Homo sapiens: one gene and its partners. The protein of the gene in region 1 purifies or fractionates together with the protein of each later gene. This does not show direct contact. Each region holds a gene or a part of one and is shown in the gene's direction. Other genes may lie near its edges.

Region 1 (3,500 bases):
GGACTTTCTTGAGTGGCAGGTGTCACCCTGGGTCCCGTGTGGGATGGTTTAATACAGGGGTTTGTGTGTTTGTGTGTGTGGAGGGCCACTGCGCCCCCAGATCCTCCTCTCCCCCGAGGGCTGCGTCTCTAAACCTGGGAAAACATCAGCCTCAGGAGGAGGCCCCTTTCCGGGTAACTGATGTGTGGGAGAAGCCAAGAGGCCCCTGCCTGTCTCCTGAATGAGGCTGTGAGGGTTGCCATGTGGGCGGGACCGGTTCAAAATAGCGCCCCCGCCCCTCTAAATTAGACCGTGGTCTCAGCATGATCATCTTCAGTAGATAAGGGACAGTGGCTGATTTACTCCAAATAGTTCCAGCTGGCCACTCAGACCAGGGCCAGAGTTAACTTCTCAAACACCAGCCAGCTGAAAATTAGGGTTCTCGTGCAGGCAAGTGCATGGTTGACACACAGCCCTTTGGTGACAAAGCTGGGCTTTGCCTGCATAGTGCAGACAAGGCTGTTGGTTCAGAGGCTGCAGGGCACATTCCAGGTTGGGGCCTTTTGTCGGTCGGAATTCAATAGGACATTCCCTGGCTGTGGGTGTTTAGGGCAGGAATTACAGGCTTGCAGAGAAAGTCAGAGGCAATGAGATGCTCCCAGTACCAAACTGTGACACTGGGATCAGGGTGGTCATTCCCTTGGGTCAGAGTGGGACCCTAGAGCCAGAGTGAGCTGTGGGTGGCCTGGGTGTGTCCTGTGGACGGCGGAGACTGTTGATTTGGATGTTGAGCTCTGAGTCAGTTTCAGAACCAAGGATCTCAGGCTGAGAAGGCCAGGTCCCCATGGGAGCGGCAGGAGTCTGATGGCTCTGCTGCCAGAGCCTACCCCAGCCTGCCACGCCGCTGACCTTCCCATGGTAAGGAAGGGGCAGGCAGCATGGTTCCCACCCTCAGCTGCCCCAGACCCACACATCCAGCCCCAAGAGCAGCCTCACCCAGGCACAGTGCAGGGCATTTTAGCTCCTGGGAGGGGAGATGCCTTTGTGAGTTTCAGATGTCAGAGGAGAAGCTCCGAGAGAGTAAGTCATGTGCCCCCAAACACTCAGCTCCTAAGTGGCAGGACAGGCAAGTGGCCAGGTTGGGCCGCCCCCACAGCCTGTGCCGTCCACACACTCACTACAGCACTCCCAGAAGAAGGAGCAGAATCGCATGCAGCCCAGAGCAGGTCCTGTGGAGGGGTCCTCACCCCTCAGGAGTAATAGGGTGATTATGTCACATGTTTAGTGATACAATCCCACCTGTGTCTGGATTGTGTCACTAAACATGCAACATAAATTACCATCTCTTCTCCATCCCCTCAGCAGCCGCCCCCACCCCAAGCTGGGAAAATAAGCTTCTCCCTCCCATATGTGGGGGCGGCCCCCTCCTGAGACCTGTCATCACTTAGGGGGAGTTGGGCAAAACCTCCTAGGAAGGTCCTGGACGCCTCCACCCTGCCCCACAAGGCTCCGTACTCCCACCTGCCTGGGCAGCCCTCACACCCATGCTCCCTCCTTTAGGCAGGCCCAGAAAGGTGCCCCTTCCTGAGGGTGTTGGGGGATGGCGGCAGAGAGACAGCTGGTATTAGGAGCTTCCCCATCCTAATGTGCAGGACCAAGTTGCCCGCTCTGCCAGCCAGGGGCTCCAGCCATGCTGGCACAGGCATCTCAGAGGTGTGAGATGAACTCCGCCTCATGCAGGATGCCCAGGGCTCGGAAGCAGTAAGGAGGATGCTACAGAAAGGAACTGCAGAAAGAAAAAAAGCCACATGGTTAACTTTTCCCCTGGAGGGCAAAGGGGTCCGGCTCTCAAAAAGAAAAGCCAGGCACAGATCCCAACACCAAGTGTAAGGCAGCACAAAGTGGGTCTGAAACCCCAGGACCGGGTCAAAGGCCTTCCGAAGGCCCGAGGTTCTTGAGGAGGGGAAGCTGATAGGGCCCTGGTCTTTCTGCACCAGCGTGGCTCTTTAAAATACAAAACACCCACAAAGCCAAAAACCCTGAAACATGTTCTTTAGCTAACCCCTTCCCTGCCCAGATGCCTGCAATTCTGAGAATTCACTTCAGTTTTGCCAGATCCAACCCCTAGGCTTGAGGGTGGAGAGCCAGGCCTCCTCAGGGTCCCTTCTAGGCTCCCAGGCCCACCTTAGGCTTTAATTGCATTGGCTGTTTCTTATGGTGTTAGTGAATTTTGCAAAGAAAGCCCTGAGCATTGCATAAATGCTTGGGGGCGTGTCATTTAAATGGAAGTTCTCCAATAGTGGCTGAAGGCAGAGTTTACTGTTATCCCTCCCTCTTGCTGGCTTTGCTGGAGGGCTTTTATCAGAGAGATTGGAGGTGGGAGAGCACTTTTAAAGCACACCCCACCCCCTGCACCCGAGCGGCACCTAAGCTTCCCAGAGACCATGACCTTGTATGTGGCTGGAGGCCTCAGGCTTAGGGAGCAGCCTGAAGCCTTTGCTGTCAACCCTCCCAGGAAAGAAGCCGGGCCTCAGGCTGAGGAAAAACAGAGTTTCCTCTCCAGAGGGCTCAATGAGCAGCCAGGTAGTGGCCTCGGGCAGTCCTCACCAGGGGGACACCTCCCTGCTTTGCATTAACTCATCAGCAAGCTCATCGAGAGCTAACGTGGGCCCAGCAGTCCTGTGCTTGGAAATGATGCCGTCACCTCCACACTCCTGCTGTTCCAGCCTCTGCAGGTGAAGCTGCAAGGTGAGCAGAGGCAGGCGTGGGGACACACTCTTCAAGGACTGCACTGCCCCTTCTCCCTCCTGAGAGCTCTGTGCACTGGGTTTGGGGATGAGGCGCCAGCCTGGTCAGGGGAGGTGACTGTGGTCCTTCTGACCAGCTTGGATCTTTAAAATAATCACAAAAAAGCTCAGCCTGAGCAGGTGGGTGCAAGGCTCAGGGGCCTGTGTTTTTCATCAATCAGTTTTCTTCCTGCAAGATTCTTAGAGCTGGATGTTCACGGGATCATGGGGCATGGAGGTGGTCACGCTCAGACAGTCATGCACCACCCTCAATCCCAGGCCCTGCAGAGATAGGAAGAATCCCAACCAGAGGGATTCTTCCCCAAACGTTCCCTTGTGGCCCAAGAGTGAGTTCCGGCCTGAGTGCTGTTATGACTGCCGGCGTCTCTCCGACTGCCTCTCGCCTCAGTTTAACCATCTATAGGTTAGGAACAAAGAAGGGCTTAGGCAGCCATCGTTTCCCCATTTCTGTCAGAGCCAAGGGCTTGGAGGCCCAGCCCCATCCGGGCAAGGGCTGTCCGCTCCTGCCCAGGCCTCACCTCCTCGCTGCAGCTGGCAAGATTCTTTCTAGCAGAACAGAAACACTGGCCCCCAATTCCACTCTCCCCTCCTGATGCTACCGCAGAGGGCAGAAAGGTGCCCTGTAGCGTCCACCATGTGTGTGTCCTGAGTTTCCAGTGCAAGTCATCTGGATTTGCATTTAGCTAGGGAAACTCGGCCCTCAAACCCTCTCCC
Region 2 (3,500 bases), on another chromosome or scaffold:
ACAAAACAACAAGAAAAGAAAACAAGTACTGATAAACGTCCCACTACCCTCAGCCACTAGTCTAGTCCTTGGGGACACACAGCTCTAAATGAGATAGTAAGCATCCTGTTCTCTGGCAGCACACATTTTAAGGGCGGGAGAGACTGAGAGGGGACAGTCCTGGATTACGCGTCAGGTGGTGATGAACAGGTGAGACAACAGAGCAAGCATAGCCTGAGTGGCGTCACTTCCTGGCTCTGTGACCTAGGGCAGGTGTCTCAATCTCTCTGAACCTCGTTTTCCTCATCTCTAAAATGAGGATCATAACAGTCCCACCCTCATGGGGCTATTTTGATGGTTAGATGTGCCAATACATGTACAGAGCTTAGAATGCCACCTGGCATCGCTGGGCGTGGTGGCTCACACCTGTAATCCCAGCACACTTTGGGAGGCTGAGGTGGGAGGATCAAGACCAGCCTAGTCAACATGGTGAAACCCCGTCTCTACTAAAAATACAAAAAAATTAGCTGGGCATTGTGGCATGTTCCTGTAATCCCGGTTACTCAGGAGGCTGAGGCAGGAGAATTGCTTGAACCTGGGAGGCAGAGGTTGCAATGAGCCGAGATCGTGCCACTGCACTCCAGCCTAGGCAACAGAGCAAGACTCCATCTCAAAAAAAAAAAAAAGAATGGCACCTGGCATAGAGTTGCTGATGCTGCAGTTTTTAAACTATTATTATTATTATTATTACTATTATTATTTTGAAACGGAATTTTGCTCTTGTTACCCAGGCTAGAGTGCAGTGGCACAATCTCAGCCCACTGCAACCTCCGTCTCCCGGGTTCAAGCGGTTCTCCTGCCTCAGCCTCCCGAGTTGCTGGGATTACAGGCATATGCCACCATGCCCAGCTAATTTTTGTATTTTTAGTAGAGACGGGGTTTCATCATATTGGTCAGGCTGGTCTCGAACTCCTGACCTCAGGTTATCTGCCTGCCTTGGCTTCCCAAACTGCTGGTATTACGGGTGTGAGCCACCACACCCGGCCTATTATTATTATTACTATTATTATTATTTTGACACAGTGTCTCACTCTGTCAGCCAGTGGCAGGATCATAGCTCGCTACAGCCTGGAACTCCTGGGCTTAAGCGATCTTCCCACCTGGGCCTTCCAAAGTGCTGGCACAAGACAGGCCTGAGCCACCCTGCCTGGCCCTATATAAGATATCTTTTTTTTTTTTTGAGACAGAGTCTCGCTCTGTCGCCCAGGCTGGAGTGCAATGGTGCGATCTTGGCTCACTGCAACCTCCGCCACCCAGGTTCAAGCAATTCTCCTGCCTCAGCCTCCTAAGTAGCTGGGATTACAGGTGCCCGCCACCACACCCAGCTAATTTTTTGTATTTTTAGTACAGACGGGGTTTCGCCACGTTGGCCAGGCTGGTCTCGAACTCCTGACCTCAGGTGATCCGCCTGCCTTGGCCTCCAAAAGTGCTGGGATTACAGGTGTGAGTTACTGCACCCGGCCATATAAAATATCTTAAAGGAAACAATAGGCCGGGCACGGTGGCTCACGCCTGTAATCCCAGTACTTAGGGAGGCCCAGACTGGAGGATTGCTTGACACCAGCCTGGGCAACATGGTGAAATTCTGTCGCTACCAATAATAGAAAAAATTAGCCAGGTGTGGTTGCGCACACCCGTAGTCTCAGCTGCTCAGGAGGATGAGGTGGAGGATCACTTGATCCTAGGAGGTAGAGGCTGCAGTGAGCCAAGATTGTGCCACTGCTCGCTCTGTCTGGGCAACAGAGAAAGACTCTTGTCTCAAAAAAGAAAAAAAAACAAAAGAGGCCGGGCGCAGTGGCTCACGCATATAATCCCAACACTTTGGGAGGCTGAGGCGGGTGGATCACCTGAGGTCAGGAGTTCGAGACCAGTGTGGCCAACATGGCAAAACCCCGTCTCCACTAAAAATACAAAAATTAGCTGGGCATCGTGGCGGGCACCTACCTGTAGTCCCAGCTACTCGGGAGGCTGAGGCAGGAGAATTGCTTGAACCCAGGAGGCGGAGGTTGTAGTGAGCCCACATCACACCATTGCACTCCAGCCTAGGCAACAGAGCAGGACTCCATCTAAAAAAAAAAAAAAGAGAAAAATAAAAAAAGTTTTCTATAGGGTGGTTAAGAAGTCTTAACAGGTCGGGTGTGGTGGCTTACACCTGTAATACCAACACTTTGGGAGGCCAAGGCAGGCGGATCACCTGAGGTCAGGAGTTTGAGACCAGCCTGGCCAACATGGTGGAAACCCCATCTCTACTAAAAATACAAAAATTAGCCGGGCTTGGTAGCGGGCACCTGTAATCCCAGCTACTCGGGAGGCTGAGGCAGGAGAATTGCTTGAACCCGGGAGGCGGAGGTTGCAGTGAGCCGAGATCACACCATTGCACTCCATCCTGGGCAACAAGAGCGAGACTCTGTCTCAAAAAAAAAAAAAAATCTTAACAGTTTCCATTCTCCCTTCTCTAACTCCAGGAACAAACCCTATCTGTTTTATTTCAACATTGTGAAATGTGCCAGCCCCCTGGTTCTGCTGGAATTCCAATGTCCCACTCCCCAGGTAACCTGGTCCCCACCGTTCCCTTTTTCCTCTCCCCGCTTCCCATCCTTTTCCCCCTGTGAATGTGGGCTGCGACCTCAGTCCTGAGCAGTCTGCCCCAACTCCACCCAATCCCTTCCTTCTCCCCTCCCAGATCTGCGTGGAAAAATGCCCCGACCGCTACCTCACGTACCTGAATGCTCGCAGCTCCCGGGACTTTGAGTACTATAAGCAGTTCTGTGTTCCTGGCTTCAAGAACAATAAAGTGAGTTGTAGACTGTCCTGAGAGCACAGGTATGGGCAGTGGCAGTGTACTAGACTTGGGGACTCACCTCCCTCCATCTCTCTTGGCAGGGAGTGGCTGAGGTGCTTCAAGATGGTGACTGCCCTGCTGTCCTCATCCCCAGCAAACCCTGTGAGTCAGGGGATCCCAGGAGGCTCAGGTGGTGACGGGGAGGCTCTGCAGAGGCTCAGCCTGACTGGTGCCATCCTCTGCTCCATGCAGTGGCCCGGAGATGCTTCCCCGCTATCCACGCCTACAAGGGTGTCCTGATGGTGGGCAATGAGACGACCTATGAGGATGGGCATGGCTCCCGGAAAAACATCACAGACCTGGTGGAGGGCGCCAAGTGAGGATATTGGCGCACCGCGCCAGGGTCTCACTTTGCTGGGTGGGACAGGCAATCCCCTGTGGTTGGCCTGATCATGGAAGAGGGTCTGACCCGAGCCTTGTCCTCCTTCCCCCAGGAAAGCCAATGGAGTCCTAGAGGCGCGGCAACTCGCCATGCGCATATTTGAAGATTACACCGTCTCTTGGTACTGGATTATCATGTAAGTCAGGAGGGAAGGGGCCTCTCCCCTGGCTGCCCCCTCTAAGCCTGGCTGAGGGTGGAGTCTGTTCATGACCGTTTTCTTTTCCCCAGAGGCCTGGT
Region 3 (2,156 bases), on another chromosome or scaffold:
CATGGCAAAACCCCATCTCTACAAAAAAAAAAAAAAAAAAAAAAAAATTAGCTGGGCACGGTGGTGTGGCTATAGTCTGAGCTACTCAGGAGGCTGATGTATGAGGATCACCTGAGTCCAGGAGGTCGAGGCTGCAGTGAGCCAAGATGGCGCCACTGCACTCCAGCCTGGGTGAGAGAGTGAGACACTGTCCCAAGGAAAAAAAAAAGTGTTGGGGGGTAGTTCTTAAGCGTTGAAGATTTCCTTTTTGGAAAGTATTTAAAGGTAGAAATATTAATAATTTTTCCTAAAACATCTCCCTAAGAAGTCACTGATAATTATAATTAGTTTAAATTTATTCTTACACTACTTAAGAAAAATTTCATTTAGAAAAGGCTACCATGAGATCTTTTGACTATATGGAGTAGACTGCATACAGATCTCTTTATTTCTATTATGAATATTTTAGCGATTATAATCAGCTATTCCACTGAGTATTAGATTTGGTCACTAAGTAACTCATGTTTTTCTTTAGTCAATCATTCATTCATTCACTAAAACATTTGTTGAGAGTTGGCTAAACTCTAGATTCTGTGCCAGGCACTGTACAGGGTGATGGAGATCACTCATAAGAAGGCCTCTTGCTCTTAGCCAGATCATATGTAATACTAAATTTAAATTTTTTGCATTAAAAGGCTAAAAAATCATTTGTTTTTGTTAATTATATACTGGTTGATTTATAGATGTAATTAGCACATATTCATAAGAGACAAATATATACAATGAGTTACTATACATATACAAAGTGATTTTAGCTGTATAAAGTGATATTGCAAAAAACTACAGCTAATGTTTCTTGCTGGGTAATTATTAGCATAAATATCAGGTTCTTAGAGGTCTTTAAGAGAATACTTTAGAGCTACCAAAATTAGCAGCAGTGATGTAATATCACCCTGAAATACCAGGAGCAGAGGTGCCCCAGAGTGCTTCACAGCTATGATCAGGAAACTTGACCTGCCCCATTGCTACAGCAACGGCATAAGGACTAGGAAGGTCCACTAGCTGGGGAGGTCTTGGAACCCTCCGAGCCAGAAAGAAGCATTCCAGCATGATTCCTCAGATGCAATGAGGAAGGTTTACAGAATTTTCACAGGGCAACAGAGATCAAGTGGTATGAAAAGGTAGGAGTTTTAAGCTCAAGTCTCAAAGATAACCTACCTTTACATTCTCAGTCAGAATTTGACCCAGAAAGAGGAAGTTTCTTCAGGAACAGACCGTACGTTGATGAAGTAGAAGTCATTTCAGTAAAAACGGAGTACAGAACTTGGTCATAATATCTTGCATTTTATAGATTTATTAAAGATTAGTTTCAAGTTCACATTCGCTATTCAGTTGTAAACCGAATGGATGGGAGGGGAGAAAATACAAGCTCTCCACACAGGTATGCTCCTCTCTTTTCTGAGAGAGAAGGCATGGGATTTTCAGCATAAATTCCATGTTATGTGAGTGCTGTTTGAGTTCTGAAGTTCCTATCAATATCTGTTCCTGCAAGTGATCTCTGTAAGACCACCTTACATGCTGGTCTTAGTTATTGTTAAAATTGCAAGGTTTCTTCACACCCTCTTTGATAAGAAGTGTTTAGCTGGCAGAGCTTTCCCTTGACTTCTGAGTCTAGTGTGGGTTGGCCCATGACAGTGGGAAGAAATCCAACATGTTACATGGAGACCTTGTATGTAAACAAACTCTGTAGCCTTTGAAAGTGGAACTGCTTTTTACAGTTAAAGGGCTGCTAAATGGCTTGCAGATGAGATCTTCTGGCTCACCTTGATCTTCACATGAACCCATTGTGACCTATCTGGATTTCCTAGGACCTGTAGTTTCCATTTGGGTTATATTAGTGCCTCAGGAATGTGTCACTACTGGTCAAGCAATACTCAGAAATTCAGGCTGTGAGGGGTTAGATTAGAGGAAAGTAATTTAGGTGAGCTATCCAGAGCTTTCAACCTCAGGGTTTATAGGAAAAAAAAACAAAATACAAAAACCCTTAGGACTTCTCATACTCTAGCCCTGACCTTGCAGTCTCCTCTGAGGGGCCTCCTAAGACCCTTAAAATAATATTACAATAGGACTTTGAGTGTGCATTTCACAGTGGAAATAGCCTCTGGCTAGCATTACTT

Evidence for each region. Proteins that work in one complex are often made in the same cells at the same time.
Region 2: the proteins of STUM (region 1) and SLC44A2 purify together in Homo sapiens (affinity purification with mass spectrometry; one large-scale study listed by BioGRID and IntAct). This does not show direct contact.
Region 3: the proteins of STUM (region 1) and TMEM245 purify together in Homo sapiens (affinity purification with mass spectrometry; one large-scale study listed by BioGRID and IntAct). This does not show direct contact.

What each region holds. Positions count from the first base shown.
Region 1 is NC_000001.11:226,604,264-226,607,763, forward strand, and holds part of STUM (protein stum homolog), read left to right. Parts: 3' UTR 1-3,500.
Region 2 is NC_000019.10:10,628,553-10,632,052, forward strand, and holds part of SLC44A2 (choline transporter-like protein 2), read left to right. Parts: intron 1-2,504; coding exon 2,505-2,589; intron 2,590-2,722; coding exon 2,723-2,833; intron 2,834-2,922; coding exon 2,923-2,983; intron 2,984-3,073; coding exon 3,074-3,197; intron 3,198-3,315; coding exon 3,316-3,399; intron 3,400-3,491; coding exon 3,492-3,500.
Region 3 is NC_000009.12:109,016,792-109,018,947, reverse strand, and holds part of TMEM245 (transmembrane protein 245), read left to right. Parts: 3' UTR 1-2,156.